Regions from separate parts of the Homo sapiens genome. Here region 1 is linked to region 2. A link means that fine-mapping ties the variant in region 2 to the expression of a gene that starts in the linked region. Tissue or cell type: blood mononuclear cells. Region 2 holds a variant in brackets; the other region holds the start of a gene. All regions are shown on one strand. Distances are from middle to middle.

Region 1 (2,749 bases), 110 kb before region 2:
ACAGTATGTCTTTTTTGTGTCTTATTTCACTCAACATAATGTGTTCAATGTGCTCGTTTATACTGTATAATGTGTTCGTTTATATTGCAGCATGTATCAGAATTTCATTCCTTTCTAAAGATGAACAATGGTCCATTCATTATATGTATATACCACAGCTTGCCTTTCATCCACATGTTGATAGACATCTGGATTTTGAATAATGCTGCGATGAACATTTGTGAACAAGTATCTGAGTCTCTGCTGTCAATTTTTGGGGGTATAAACCTAGAACTGAGGAACGACTACCAATTTCCATAGCTGCTGCACCACCCTACTTTCCCACCAGCAATGCACCCGAGCTTCAATTTCTCCACATCCCCAACACTCATAATTTCCCTTTTTTTTAATAGCCACCCTAACAGGTGTGAGGTGGTATCTCATTGTGGTTTTCATCTGCATTTCCTTAATGGTTAGTGATGTTGAGCATCACTGCACGTGCTTATTGGCCATTTGTCTCTCTTCTCTGGAGAAATATCTATTCAAATTCCTTGCCCATTCTTGAACTGGGTTGCTTTTTGTTGGTCAGTTGCATCTCTTCTTGTATTCTAGACATTAACTCTTTATCAGGTTTACAAATGTCCTCTCCCACTTTGGAGGCTGTATAGCGGATTTTTAAACAGTAATAATGACAGAAGAGGAGGCAGTCTAGAACTAAAACAGAAAGAATGGCTTTCGTCTTGTGCCGCCCTCAACTTCCCAATGGTTTCAAACGCAATGTTTCCAGCCTCGGCAGCGACTGACACCGGGCCTCCCCGCTCCCTGCACAAAGACGCACTCCCGCCCCGGCCTGTGGGGGCGGGCCCTTCCCTCGGGCCGTGTGGGAAGCGAGGCAGCGCAGGCCCCCTTCACTCGGACCCGCGGCTTCCCGGGACCGTCCCCGCCAGGTCGGCGGCCGACACGGGGCTCGGGGATGCAGGCCCCAACCACGCCCCTCCCCCGCTCGCTCTCGCTCCTCACCGGTCCGGCCGCGGGCGGCGTCCAGTGGGCGATGGACCGCGCGGAGGGCCCGGCTCGCGGTCGCGGGCGGCTCCGCGAGGCCCTGCAGCGCAGCGGCCTCCCGAATGGCGACTGGATGCAGGAGCCGGGATCCGGGTGCGCGAGCGTGCGCGCTCCCGCGGGACGGGCGGGGGCTGACGGGAAGCAAGTTTGGCGCCGCGCGCCCTCCCGCGCGGGCCAATCAGATCGCCGATCGCGTGGCGCGGCTGTGCCAAAAGTGCGTGGGCAAAACTAGCGGCTCGCGCGGGCCTTCGGAAGGGCTGCGTGCCCGCCCCGCCCCGGAAGTGCCGCACGTGCCCACTCCGCCTCCGCTTCCCGCGCGCGCCCGGGCGCGGCTCCGGGAGGGTTCCGCCGCGTCTGGCCTGTGGCCTCCGGCCAGGCCCTTGGAACGGCCCCGGCCTGCCGCCGCCGTGCGGATATCTCTTCCTTTTCTTGCTGTTTTGATTGTTGTGTGAATGAATTTATTAGGAAAAAAAGAGCTAGACCTGCCCCATACATTCTCAGGGATATTACTGGCATAATACCTATGACAAAAGTACAAGACAAAGTTGTTGGATGACAGTAAATATTCCTTTTCTCATCACCCCGCCTCCACTGAAAGTCCCGATTCCCAGAAGTTATCTTCTTCGTTTTTTGTTTTCAGTTTTATGAATGTTACCACCACAATTCTAATTAAAATGCATGCACCTCTAATGCTGATGCCATCAGTCTGTATGCTTTGAAAGACTGTAAAATTAGCTCACACTGCTCTCTACCTTTGTACCCTTCTGAAGTTTTGCTTGTTGTGAATTTCATTTTTGTTTTTGTGGTGAAAATGAACTATAGAATGGCCGGGCGCGGTGGCTCACGCTTGTAATCCCAGCACTTTGAGAGGCCTAGGCAGGTGAATCATCTGAGGTCAGGAGTTCGAGACCAGCCTGTCCAACCTGGTGAAACCTTGTCTCTGCTAAAAATACAATATTAGCCAGGCGTGGTGGCGGGCGCGTGTAACCCCAGCTACTAGGGAGGCTGAGGCAGGAGAATCCCATAGAACCGGGGAGGCGGAGGTTACAGCGAGATCGCGCCACTGCACTCCAGCCTGGGGGAGAGAGTGAGACTCTGTCTCAAAAAAATAAAAATAAAATCCATAGAATTTACCGTCTTAACTATCTTTACGTGTACAGCTCAGTGGTGGTAAGTATATTCATAACACCACCATCCATCTCTGTACCTCTTTCATCTTGAAAAACAAACTATGCATTACATGTTAACTCTCGGTTCCCCTCTACCTTCTACTTTCTGGCAGTCACCATCTTACTTCCTGTGTCTCTGAGTCTGACTACTCATAAGAGTGGAATCATACAGTATTTGTCTTGTGACTGACTTATTTTACTTAGCAGAACATCCTCAAGGTTCATCCATGTTGTAGCACATTGTGGAATTTCCTTCCTTTTTAACACTGAATACTATCCCATTGTATGGATATGCCACATTTTGCTTATCCACTCACCTGTTGATGGACACTTGGCTTGCTTCCCTATTCAAGATATTGTGAATAATGCTTTGACATTTTCAAAGAACCAATTTTTGGTTTCATTGATTTTCTCTATCGTTTTCTATTTTCTATTTCATTTATCTTGGCTTTAATCTTTATTATTTCCTTCTTTTTGCCAGCTTTGGATTTAGTTTTTCTTTTTATAGTTCATTAAGTTGTAAAGTTAGGTTGTTAATT
Region 2 (2,500 bases):
GCTGAACTAAGGAGCAAAATTCTGCAATAGTTTGTATATTGCCATCTTAATATAGCAAGACTTCTGAATCCATACACGTGGGATATTTTTCCATTTATTTAGATCTTCAATTTTTGTGGATGACGGTTTGTAGTTTTTGGAGTATAAATTTTGTACTTCCTTTGTTTATTCCTAAGTACCTATTCTTTTGATACTTTTGAGTATGGAATTGTTTTCTTAGTTTCCTCTTCAGATTGCTCATTGCAAGTATATAAAAACACAATTGATTTTTGTGTATTGATCTTGTATTCTGCAACCTTGTTGAACTTGTGGATTAGTTCTACAGCTTTTTAGTGCATTCCTTAAGATTTTCTATATGCAAGATCATATCATCTGTGAATAGAAATAGTTTGCTTCTTCCTTCCCAATTTCGATGTCTTTTATTTTCATGTCCAGTGAGGCTTGCACTTTTCTAAATTCTGTTGCAAATTAAACCATCCCTTTGGGAAGAGAATGGGAGCTGTTACGAGGGTCTGCTTCTTCCTCTGGGCAAAATCTCAGAGCCCTGGAGCTCGGAGTGGGAACAATGGCGATCTTCTCTCTGAGTGACACCCCAGGCTCTGTGCTCCACTGTGTGTGTGTGTTGGAGGGACACACAGGTCTTCTCGGCGTGACTCTCCCAGCATGGAACCAATGCCTATGAACCAGACCAAGGGGATCTTGGCTCCTGTAGTCTTAGGATCACCATTCCCAAGGCTGCAGGCTAAGCATCCACTCCACAAACAGGAAATGGGCAGAACAAGAGCATCTCCAGCGTGGGGCCACACTCACCTGGGATTTAGTCTCAGCAACAGGCAACTGCAGACAAGATGAGAAAAGTAAGGCCCTGCCCCTTCCAGGAAGAAGGCCCTTCGACTAGGAGCTGTGGGGAGCAGAGCCCATGCACTTGGCTGCAGCTT[C/T]TGGTGTGCATCTGCATTGCTGAGCTGGAAGCAGTGGGGAGACAGCAGGTTTTAGCTCATATACCAGGGACATTTGCTGTTCTTGTCAAATTACAGTAGCTTTTCTTGAATATATGTTTCTTCTTAGGACCATACAGCAGAGACTCTAAATGACTGTGTTTTAACCATTTTCAAAAGTTTTGCTGGGGAGTGGGTTGAGAGAGCTCCTCATGCGGTCATTCTGGGGGTCTCTCATGTGGATCCCACTTGAAATCCATTTGTCATTGAGTTTTCAGTCTTGGGCAGAGGTATTCATCTCTGAATTTCTTTTTACATAAACTCTGATTGCAGCCTTATTTGTAATAGCCCAAAACTGGAAACCACCCAAATGCTCATCAACAGGTGAATGGATAAACACATTGTGATAGATCCGTACGATGGAACACTACTCAACGTTATGCTAACTGAAAGGCAGACAAAACGCAGATACTTGATGAACCTATACACATAAAATCCAGAAAGTGCAAAGGCACCCATAGGGAACCTTCGATGGGCAGAGGGTGGTGGGTAGGGGGACCGAAAGGCTCAGGGAAACCTGGGGAGTGATGAATATGTTTACTGTCTTGACTGGGGTGCTGGTGTCATGGGTGTATCATATGACAAACCTATCACATACACTTTGAATATGTGTTTACTGTATGCCAATCACATCTGAATAAAGACATGAAAAATGAAATCAGGAGTGAAAGTCCAATTGTTGGCTCTATAGTTTCTCTCATGTTGATTTGTGCTACTGGCTGACCAGCTAGCTAGATATGTTTATTCCATCAACCAACTGGTCTGCAGTGCTCCAGAAGCAGCTGAGACTCCCCTGAAAACGAACTGTTTCTCTCCAGCATTGTGCATTAACTCGGCAAGTGTCCTTTGTTAAAGAATGGAGTCAACTGAGACATGAAATAGCCAGTTATCAAGCCCCAAACTGATGCATTCTTGAGAAAAATGGTTGACTTTCCCATGGCTTCCCTTGAAGCCCTGGAAGCCCACAGTAAATCATCTCTGAGGCAGGTTTGCTCCAGTTGGGCCTTTGAACAAAGCCAGCACACAGGACCATGCAGGGCCCGCCTGAGCTTGGAGCAGCACCTTCCCAGTGGTGCACCCTGCTGGGCCTGCAATCTTCCTGTATCACACACCTCGAGGTACCTGAGGATCAATTATATTTTAATTTATTATGAAATCTGAAACTACTATAAGCTTCTTGGGGATAGGTACAGGCCAAAAGTCTTAAAAGGTTCAAGCACTTCCGGAACAAAAACCCCTTCATTAGAATTAACTATCACAATCACCATCAAAATCTTGCACTTACAGGGAAAGGGCCATGGTGTAACTATGAGGTTACTCTAGGATGTGTAAGATGCAGGGGGCAGAGGTTATTGACCTTAGACAAGAGAGGCTTTTAGGATTCACAGTCAAGCATTTATAAGGTGATTTTAAGGAGTATGAAAGCCTGCTGATATTCATTTTCACAGAGGGCAGAACTCCACTTCTGGGTGAAAAGTGAGGTTATGAAAGAGCAGTACCAGTAT

The links. PIP is the estimated chance that this variant, and not a neighbour inherited with it, causes the effect.
Region 1: it holds the start of CHAMP1, and the variant in region 2 is fine-mapped to the expression of CHAMP1 in blood mononuclear cells (TOPMed, PIP 0.98).

The regions. Positions count from the first base shown.
Region 1 is chr13:114,312,894-114,315,642 of GRCh38, reverse strand. It overlaps CHAMP1 (chromosome alignment maintaining phosphoprotein 1), which reads right to left and starts at 1,140. Exons shown (of 3, transcript NM_032436.4): 1 at 1,000-1,140. RefSeq lists silencers at 803-1,482, 2,255-2,549.
Region 2 is chr13:114,201,016-114,203,515 of GRCh38, reverse strand. All of the region lies in intron 3 of CFAP97D2 (CFAP97 domain containing 2), which reads right to left. Among named protein-coding and RNA genes, the nearest start is that of CFAP97D2, 23 kb to the right of the region's middle. The variant C/T (reference allele first, on the strand shown) is at 939.